2 separate regions of the Homo sapiens genome follow, and region 1 is linked to region 2. Evidence: fine-mapped expression QTL. A gene starts in region 2. The other region holds a variant in brackets. All regions are shown on one strand. Distances are between the middles of the regions. Region 1 overlaps SYN1 (synapsin I). Region 2 holds the start of TIMP1 (TIMP metallopeptidase inhibitor 1).

Region 1 (5,378 bases), 25 kb before region 2:
CTGTATTCTCCCACCTGGGAGAAGAAATTCCACACAGCATCTTTTCCTACTACTGACACCTCCAGTGTCATAGGATCTGCTGGATCATATGGCCTAAGTCACATCCTGCTTGCACCACAGCCCGGACCTGCTGCAGAGCACTTTGCGTTGCTACAGCATATCGGAGGCTATCTATGCCCCACCTCCCACTACTGATGGGTCCTCACTGCCATCTGGCTGCTGGGTAACCCAGCTCCAGAATTGCATTAGACCACCCTTGTAGTTTGACTTCCATGGCCCACTGTTTTAGGTTGGGTTCCCTGGAAAAAGACTTTGAGGTGGAGATTTGCATGCAGGAGGCTTACTGGAGTGTGCCATTGGGATCAACACTTGTGAGGAGGGTTGGGTTGAGCAGAGGAAGAGGCTGGCTCAAGATGTAGTTGCCTTAGGGGCCTCCGCTGCTCTTAGGGGGAGCCCTGGGGCTGGGAGGGTCCTTCAGAGTCAGCCCAGATTGAGGCAAGGAGGCTGGCCTTTCTTTCCCTTCATAGACCAGACCATGGGGATGCCCTCATGAAGTAGGTGTAACCTTGGACAAGGCAGTTCCCTGTGACAAGACAATTCCCAGTGGGGACACAGCCATGAGCTGTCAGTAGCTGCCATTCAAGGTACATTGTCCCTGAAGAGGAGGCCTGAGCAGACCACCACAGTATCCAACTACACTTATGGTCAGAAAAGTTTTAGAAACAGTGATACACCCTCATCATCCCCACTCATCAGTTTATAGATGAAAAATGTGCAGGGCTGAGAGAGATTCTCTCTCAACACTTCTGAGGGGATAGTGTCAGCGATGGTGTGTGTGTGTGTGTGTGTGTGTGTGTGTGTGTCAGAGAGAGAGCAAGGAAAAAGAAGTAGCTGTACTTGGGGTCTCTTGCATATGTCAGTCAAGTCACCAGGGTCCATTTGTGCCGTGTGTGTGTGTGTGTGTGTGTGTGTGTGTGTGTGTCTGTCCAAGACCCTGATTGTATGTGTGTCAGTGACCAGTAGCCCTGAAAGTGTCTCTCCCCCTCATCCCCCTTCCATGATAAACCTGATTGAGGATGAGCTTCCATCCCTGGAGCAAGCAGCCTGTTGGCTAGAAATCTTGAGCCTGGGGGAGGAGGCCACCGGAAACCAAGCCCAGCTGGGGACGGGCCCGGGGACAATGACATAGCAGTTCGTGATGTTCCTACTGCTGCTCCCACTCCCCCTCCCTCCTGTTGCTCCCTCTCCTCCTCAGCTGCATTCCTCCCTGCCCCCCATCATTGCCAGCTACACTGGCTTCTCTAGAGCCACCCAGCCTGCACCACTCAATCCACTCCTCCTTATCGGATGCAGCTGCCCACCTATGGCCATTGTGTTTCTCACAGCACACAACCACACATGGTGAATGTGCTCCTCCTTGCGAAAGGGCCAGAGAGCAGAGAGATGCTTCAGGCCACACAGCCAGACACAGGCACTGACATATACACAGGCACTAAAAAATACACAAAAACAGGCACGCTTCAGAGAAATGTAGTTTCTTTCTCTCCTTCCTTCCTTCCTTCCCCTTCCTTCCTTCCCCTTCCTTCCTTCCTTCCTTCCTTCCTTCCTTCCTTCCTTCCTTCCTTCCTTCCTTCCTTCCTTCCTTTCTCTTTATTTCTTTCTCTTTTTTGCCTAGGTCTTGCTCTGTTCCCCAAGCTGGAGTGCAGTGGTGCAATCACGGCTCACTACAGCCTCGACCTCCTGGGCTCAAGCCATTCTCCTGCCTCAGCCTCCCCAGTAGCTGGGACTACAGGCATGCACCACTATGCCTGGCTAGTTTTTGTTTTTTGGGTTTTTTGGAGATGGAGTCTCGCTCTTGTTGCCCAGGCTGGAGTGTAATAGCACCATTTTGGCTCACTGCAACTTCCGCCTCCTGGGTCCAAGTGATTCTCCTGCCTCAGCCTCCCAAGTAGCTGGGAATACAGGCATGCACCACTACACCTGGCTAATTTTGTATTTTAGTAGAGAAGGGGTTTCACCATGTTGGTCAGGCTGGTCTCGAACTCTTGACCTCAGGTGATCCACCCGCCTTGGCCTCTCAAAGTTGTGGGATTATAGACGTGAGCCACAGCCCTCGGCTTTTGTTTTTTTTTTTTTTTTTTCAATTTTTTTTGTAGAGATGGGGGTCTCTCTATATTGTCCAGGGTGGTCTCCAACCCTTGGCCTGAAGCAATCCTCCTACCTCCAGCCTCCCAAAGTGCTGAGATTACAGG[C/T]GTAAGCCACCGTACCTGGCCAGATAGGTGTTTTCTAAGGTTCTTTGCTGTTTACCGGTCTCCATGCAATTTCAAAGTATGTTCTAATTTACATAGTGCTGCTAATTTTGTGAAGTTTTTTTAAAAAATTTACAATGACAATGTGATGAGCAGACTAAATTTTGGGAAATACCTGCTCTCTGCAGTGTAAGGCCACATTTTACAGTTTGCAATGTCCTTTAATATTTTTGCAACTCCATGAGGATTACAACAGACATTATTCACAAAGCACTCTTGATTTTTTCAAAATATTTCAATAATTATAAGGCACTTTGTGGTTTCTTTAGTAGCATTGAAGGGGCAAAAGGGTCAAGGGCCTGTGTTTTGTCTTCCCTTCTGAGATTTCATCATTGACAGATGTGTTGTTTTTCCTCTCCAGGGCAAAATACTTCAAAGGGAAAAAGATCCATGGAGAAATTGACATTAAAGTAGAACAGGTAAGTTGGGACATTTGGACCTGGGGGTCAGTTGTCCATACTGCAAACTGAGTGGCCATTTTTGTGTGATGTAGGTGAATCACCAGTTTTTTTCTCCTTCCCAGGCCGAATTCTCTGATCTCAACCTTGTGGCCCATGCCAATGGTGGATTCTCTGTGGATATGGAAGTTCTTCGGAATGGGGTGAAGGTCGTGCGGTGAGTATAAGAAGGGTACCTTGGTGTTATGAGCAAGGCATAAGAACTCTCCCTTAGAGCTGGGGGAAAGTTCCTACCTCCCCACCCATCCTTCTGTGGGCAAGAACTTAGGCATGGAATGTGGGGAGACAACTTTTCTTCAGAAAAAGAGCCAGGGACCCCAGGATGCCACAAGTCAGACTTTAAAAAAAAATATATATATATATATATATATTTCAGACAGGGTCTTGCTCTGTCTCCCAGGCTGGAGTGCACTGGCACAATCATGGCTCTCTGCAGCTGCAACCTCTCAGGCTCAAGTGATCCTCCCACCTCAGCCTCCCAAGTAGCTGAGACTACAGGTGCGCACCACCATGCCTAGCTAATTTTTATGTTTTTTGTAGAGATGGGGGGGGTCCTCACTATGTTGCCCAGGTTTGTCTCAAACTTCTGGGCTCAAACAATCTACCTGCCTTGTCCTCTCAAAGTGCTGGGATTACAGGCATGAGCCGCCACACCCAGCCTTCAATTATTAATTAAATAAACATTTGCTAGACATCTGCTGCATGCCAGATGCTGCTCTCAGGACTTCATATTCAATAAATATTTATTGTACACCTACTGTGTGCCAGGAGATATTCTACATGCTGAAAGGCCAAAAAAAAAAAAAGAAAAAGAACCTGGGCCTTATGAAACTTACATTCTACTGTGAGATACACACAATACACAAATAAATAAGAAAATGTAAAAGTGCTAAGAAAAAACATAACAGTGGCCGGATGTGGTGGCTCATGCCTATAATCCCAGCACTTTGGGAGGCCAAGGTGGGTGGATTGCTTGAGCCCAGGAGTTCAAAATCAGCCTGGCCAACATGGTGAAACCCCGTCTCTACTAAAAATAAAAAAATTAGCCAGGCGTGGTGGCAGGTGCCTGTAATCCCAGCTACTCGGGAGGCTGAGGCAGGGAAATCGCTTGAACCCGAGAGGCGGAGATTACAGTGAGCCATGATTGCTCCAGCGCCTGGACAACAGAGCAACAGTCCGTCTCAACAGAAAAAAAAAAAAGAAAAAAATATATATATAGCACTAAAGCAGATGTAGCAATTGTTGGATGATGGTGGGGTCTGCAGTTGGGATAGGGTGGCCTGGTTGCAGGAGAGACATTTGAGGAAAGACCTGATGGAGGTGAAGGAGTGATCCATGCAGATATCTAGGGGGGAAGTGCTTTAGGCAGATGGAACAGCCTTGGTAAAGGTCCCAAGGTTAGAATTTATTCTGGGCAGAACACTGAAGACAGCTTGCAGTCTGAGAGATGGTGACCAGGGAGTTGTCAGAGCTGTGTCGGTAAGCTGCAAGCTGACCTTGCTGAGAAGGGAACAGGTAGGAGAGGCTTAAAGGGGATCACCAGGTGGGCAGAGGGTAGAAAGGGTGCACTAGGCAGAGGGAACAGCTCACACATGTGTGCAGAGGTGAGAAACCACTTTGCAATTTCTGGGAGCTATGGAGATTTAAAAACTTGGTCTTTGTTTCGAGAGTGATTGGGAGCTTCTGGGGGAACTCTCAACACTCCTACCCCTGCCACACTAGGTCTCTGAAGCCGGATTTTGTGCTGATCCGCCAGCACGCCTTCAGCATGGCACGCAACGGAGACTACCGCAGTTTGGTCATTGGGCTGCAGTATGCTGGAATCCCCAGTGTTAACTCCTTGCATTCTGTCTACAACTTCTGTGACAAGCCCTGGGTGGTAAGTAACAGGAAGGGTGCCACTGGCAGAGGGAACAGCTCATGCATGTATGTGGGAGCTTGAAACCAGTCTGCGATTTGGGGAAGTGAGGGTGTTCAGAAACTTACAGATTCGTGGTGAAGGACTCACTGACCCAGCTCTCCTGGTTCTCATAGTTTGCCCAGATGGTTCGACTGCATAAGAAACTGGGGACAGAAGAATTCCCTCTAATTGATCAGACCTTCTACCCCAATCACAAAGAAATGGTGAGTTTGGGGAAAATAGAGTGGGCAGGAGGGAAGAGTCATAACTACTGCAATAATATTAAATATTGGTATATTATCAGCAGTGCGATATCAAGAGTGTGGCTGCTGTGTGCACGTGGAGTCATGAAGTTGCTTTGTGATAGGGTCTACCGTGAATTTCCTTATGCTTACAAGGAAAACTAAATCATGATCCATTCTAATATGTATCAGATCCTGTTACTCATGTTGTCTATTTTTGCCAGTATTAAAAACCTATTTCTAATGTGAATTGACAGAATTAATGTAATGAATCAGAATATATTACATATAGAAATTAAGTCATTATTACTAACATTATCAAATATTCCTTCTGATAGAAATTTTACCTATATTCAAATTAGGATTGCCAATAACATTTATCAATAATAATGTTATAAATTAAATTGTTGGCAAGGCACGGTGGCTCATGCCTGTAATCCCAGCACTTTGAGAGGCTGAGGTGAGCAGA
Region 2 (5,378 bases):
TCACCAGCAATGAGAAACTCCTCGCTGCGGTTGTGGGACCTGTGGAAGTATCCGCAGACACTCTCCATGGCGGGGGTGTAGACGAACCGGATGTCAGCGGCATCCCCTAAGGCTTGGAACCCTTTATACATCTGTTGATGGATGAGGGGAAGTGTCTCTTTTACTGACATAATCCTCCCACTCCAGGTTCTTCCCTGAAGTCATATAGCATCCCAAGATCACAGCCAACTTTCTCGCACCAACCAGTGGCCAGAAGTTTCTGTTTTGACCAGGAGGAAGATGTTAGAAAATGCTGGGAAAGAGGCGGGGGCAGGGGATACCTTGGTCATCTTGATCTCATAACGCTGGTATAAGGTGGTCTGGTTGACTTCTGGTGTCCCCACGAACTTGGCCCTGATGACTGCAGGAGAGGAGGGAAATATGAGTCAAATGGACTGCATGAGCCAATAAAAATAAGATCATCATCATCATCATCATCATACCAGCAAAGCGCATACATAAATAGGGGTTATTGGATGCCAGACAGCACACAAAGTGATTTACACATTTGTTCATTGATTCATCTGTATGTTGAGTGTCTCTCTTTGCCGGGCACTGCTTAAGCCATTTTCATACATTGATTTGTTCATTTACTCCTCAAATATTTGGGAGTGCCCACTGTGTGCCAGACATTGTTCTGGGTGTTAGGGACACAACAGTGAACAAAACACAGAAATCCCTTTCCTTGTGGAGTTCACATTCTAGCCAGGAGGAGACAGGCTAAGAACAAACAAAATAAGGATATGGAATGTTAGACATTAAGTATAATGGGGAATTACAGACCTGGGTAAGGGGCTGACAAAGATTCTTTGCTTGACCAAACTTTACTCAGGCTCCTGAACCTCCTCCTAGGCCCATCTGTGCACTTCCTTGTAAAATCCAGTTTTAGCCGAGAGCCTTGCTAAGTCAGTTTAGCAAGAACCCCTATATTCTATATCTGATCATCCTCAATCTCTGATCATCCTCAATACCTGATCATCCTCAATCTCTGATCATCCTCAATACCTGATCATCCTCAATCTCTGATCATCCTCAATACCTGATCATCCTCAATCTCTGATCATCCTCAATCTCTGATCATCCTCAATACCTGATCATCCTTGCTATCTGACTGGGTTCTTCATCTTCCACCATCCCCCAGGTGATGTCTGATTCCCCTTGGCCTGCCTTCAGCAAGAATCCTGTTACGTCGGTTTAGCCAGAATCCCCCTTACCCCTGATGTTTCTTCTTAGTAATTTCCACCCACAGACCCTCACACTGCTCCTTAGCTACACATTCCCACTGGCCCATGCTATATTCAGTGTTGAGCCCAATCTCTCCCACCGACTGCAAGATCCCATTGCAGTGGTTCCTATACCCATCACCATGGTCCTGAATATGGTCTTCCTTACTGTGTTATAACAAGTATCACTGAATATTTTTCTGTTTAACAGGAGATCAGGAGTACTAAGGGGCAGGGGTTAAAATTTTAAACAGGATGGCCAGGGAAGGCCATCCTGAGAAGGTGACGTTTGAGGCAGCCACCCATGTGGATACCTGGGGGGAAAGTGTACCAGGCAGAGGGAGCAGCCAGCATGCAGATCCTGTGGTGGGCTTGGGCACAGAGTACTCAAGGAAGTGTGAGGATGCCAGTGTGGCTAAAGCAGAGGAAGTGCAGGGGCGAGTGGAATCATTCTAGAGGTAAGTGCCATGGTGAGCCCCACTGGACTGAAAGGGAAACCAAGGCAGAGTGTGTGGGCTGAGTGGGGTGAGGACTCACCGAGGTCGGAATTGCAGAAGGCCGTCTGTGGGTGGGGTGGGACACAGGTGCAGGCCCTGCTGGGGGCTATCAGCCACAGCAACAACAGGATGCCAGAAGCCAGGGGCTCAAAGGGGGCCATGGTGGGTTCTGTGGGGAAGGGGGATGTCAGGCAGGCCCCGGCCCAGCTGATCTGCTGACCTGGGCAGGTCATCCACCCCATCTTGCCCCGGGGCAGCCTATGGGGGGGATTAGGGGGCTGGATTTGGGCTTGAGGGGTTGGTAAGCTTAGGGATTTTAAGGGGATTGGGGAGCGCAGAGGAATTTAGGGTTTAGAGAGTTGGGAGAGTTTAAATTATTGAGGGACTGAGTGAGTTGCGGGGTTATGGGGTTGTGGCACTTGGGGGAGAAGGGGGCTGAGGAAGTTTGAGGAATGAGGGGATTGGGGAATTCTGGAGGTTGAGGAGTTTGGGGGTGAGGAATTTGGGATTGGGGGCTGGAGGAGTTTGGAGACGGCAGAGTTTAGGGGTTGTGTATATTAAGAGATATAAGAGGCTGGGGGAATTTAGGGAGGTTGAGGAATTTGGAGGAGGTTGGGGGTTTAGGGAGCTGGGGGAGTTTGGAGGTTGAAGGGGTTGGGGGAATTTGGGGGCTTAAGGCAATGGGGATACTTGAGGAATTTGAGGGCAAAAGAAGTTTGGGAGCTGGGGAACTGGGGATTGGGGAGCTGGGGGAGTTTAGGGAGCTGCAGGGGTTAGCGGTGGGTATTTAGGGGGCGATGAGGGAAATTTCGGGATGAAGGAATTTGCGGGGGGATTTGGAAAGCATTTGTGATATTAGGGGGTCATGGGTTTGGGGGAATTGGGGGCGGATGTCAGGGGTTCTAGGGAGTTTGGAGCCTCGGGGTTGGGAAAGCAGTTCCAGCCTCCGACCCTCTTCCCCCTAGACTAGCCCAGGGTCCTGGTACCCGCAGGCCAAGCTGAGTAGACAGGCATCTGGCACGGGAGTGCACGGGCCTGGTGGCCAGCACCCAAGCTGCAGCCCAGCTCCGGTCCCTGCTGGGCCACCCCGGGCCCTGCTTACCTCTGGTGTCTCTCTGGGCGCTGGATCTGCGGCGATGGCGGCAGGGCCTGAGCGCTAGAGGATAAATGTCCACGCTAGGGGCGGGGGTGGCAGCGGGTGCGGAAACCACAGGCCTCCAGGCTTCCTGGATGCATTACTCATCCACCCACCATCAGTGCAGAAGCCAAGGGGCGGGCCGACGAAAGGAGATACACCCTCCTCCTCTCCCACCCGCCTCCTCTCCCTCTCCCTGGGCCTCGCCCGGGCCAGCCACCTCCCCCACCTCCACGTCAGTCACTATTCCTTCCAAGCCGCCTCAGCGGAGAGCTTAGAGGCCGCATTTCCCCCGGCCCAGTCCCCTAAAGTCTCCAGAATCTATCCAATCACCCACATCCCCCAAGCTCCCTATGACTCAAACCCAAATTAGTTCAGCCCTTCAACATTTATTGTGCATCTACTGTGTGCCAAGCACACAAAAATCCCTTGTTTTGTATGTCTGACATGCTGGTGAGGGGTGGCAGAGAGGAAACAAATTAAGTAGCAGCAGTGGAGGGAGATAAGGCAGGTGAAAGGGGAGGAATACAAAATGGGGAAACTGAGGCACGGAGTGGTTAAGTGACTTACCCAGGATCACAGAGTCAATACATGGCAGAACTGAGACTGGAACTCAGGTGGCCAGGAGCCAAAGCCAGGGTCTCAAATAACACAGGCAAATAGCCGGCATTTATACAGCACCTACTGTATACCAGGCACTCAGCATAGTTTATCTCACTCAAAGCTCACAACAAATCTCTGAGATGGGTACCGGTTCTTATTCCCGTTTTACGGATGAGGAAATATGGGGCGTAGAGGAACTGTAGAATTTTCCTAAGATCACAGGGCATGGCCGGGATTCAAACAGAGGCTACCTGGCACCAGGGTTGTAACTCAGGAGTGGCACCGTCCTAGCAAGCAGGGAATGGTGCGGGTGAATGAATGAGCATTGGGAAGGGGGTGGCCATGAATGATGGTGAAAGAAGCAAGTGAGTGGGTCAGTAGAAAACTAATCCCCACCCCATCCTGCCCTGCCCCCTCCCCATGGACCTGTACCCCTGGTGGGGGGTGGGGTGGGGCAATCCTTGCCCACCAGCTTTCTGACAATGCAGGAACCTTCCCTGGGGTTCTGATTAACATCCTTAATTCGAGGAGGATAGATCAATAATAATAATTGTAGTGATGATGGCAGCCACTTATTGAGCACTTTCTGTGTACTATGTGCTAAAGTGTTTGTATAAATTATCTCATTCACTCACCATACTCCCTTGCTAATTAAGTTTGATTAACTCAGGGATGATAGCCCAATAACAAGAACACAACAAAAACTACCAGCAGCCCTTATGGAGTGCTTACTGCGTATCCAGCACTATTCTGGGTGGGAGGAATGTGAGGGATGAGAAATTGCCTAATGGGTACAATGTACACTATTTGGTTGATGGGGACACTAAAAGCCCAGACTTCACCACTATGTAATATATCCATGTCACAAAACTGCAGCTGTACCCTCTAAATCTATTTTTTTTTTTTGACAAGAGTCTTGCTCTGTCACCTAGGCTGGAGTGCAGTGGCGCGATCTCAGCTCACTGCAACCTCCGCCTCCGGGGTTCAAGAGATTCTCCTGTCTCAGCCTCCTGAGTAGCTGGGATTACAGCCACACCACCACCACCCCCAGCTAATTTTTGTAGTTTTAGTAGAGACGGGGGTTTCACCATATTGGTCAGATCTCGAACTCCTGACTTCAGGTGATCCACCTGCCTCGACCTCCCAAAGTGTTGGGATTACAGGCGTGAGCCACCACACCCGGCCTTCTAAATCTTTTTTTTTTTTTTAGACAGAGTTTCGATCTTGTTTCCCAGGCTGGAGTGCAATGGCAAGATCTTGGCTCACTGCAACCTCCACCTCCTGGGTTCAAGCAATTCTCCTGCCTCAGCCTCCTCAGTAGCTGGGGTTACAGGCACACGCCACCACGCCTGGCTAATTTTTGTATTTTTAGTAGAGACGGGGTTTCACCATGTTGGCCAGGCTGGTCTCAAACTCCTGACCTCGGGTGATCCGCCCACCTCAGCCTCCCAAAGTGCTGCGATTACATGCGTGAGCTACGGCACCCAGCCTAAATCTATTTTTTAAGAAAGCACTTGGCCGGGCATGGTGGCTCACACCTGTAATCCCAGCACTTTGGGAGGCTGAGGCAGGCAGATCGCTTGAGCTCAGGAGTTCAAGACCAGTCTGGGCAACATGGTGAAACCCTGTCTCTATTTAAAAAAAAAAAAAAAAGCACTGTTCTAAAGTCTTTTTACAGACATTATCTCATTTAATCAATCCCGATTGCCTCTTTGTTCATTAATGTTAGTTAAGGAAGAGATGTTAAGCCAATAATAAGAGTACCCAACACTTCTTGAGGATCGAGGCTTACTGTATGCCCGATACCATGTAGAGCATTTTTCCCAAAATAACTAACTTATTTCTCACAATATCCCTGTGAGTTAGATATAGCTCATGTTC

The links. PIP is the estimated chance that this variant, and not a neighbour inherited with it, causes the effect.
Region 1: its variant is fine-mapped to the expression of TIMP1 in whole blood (TOPMed, PIP above 0.99).

What each region holds. Positions count from the first base shown.
Region 1 is chrX:47,604,491-47,609,868 of GRCh38, reverse strand. SYN1 (synapsin I) reads left to right here. Exons shown (of 13, transcript NM_006950.3): 2 at 2,671-2,728; 3 at 2,833-2,924; 4 at 4,490-4,646; 5 at 4,802-4,891. Among named protein-coding and RNA genes, the nearest start is that of SYN1, 13 kb to the left of the region's middle. The variant C/T (reference allele first, on the strand shown) is at 2,253.
Region 2 is chrX:47,579,958-47,585,335 of GRCh38, reverse strand. It overlaps TIMP1 (TIMP metallopeptidase inhibitor 1), which reads right to left and starts at 2,900. Exons shown (of 6, transcript NM_003254.3): 1 at 2,862-2,900; 2 at 1,800-1,928; 3 at 321-400; 4 at 5-131. The coding sequence starts at 1,920. The region is part of intron 5 of SYN1 (synapsin I); the gene reads left to right. RefSeq lists silencers at 2,943-3,042, 3,103-3,252 and a cis regulatory region at 5,370-5,378.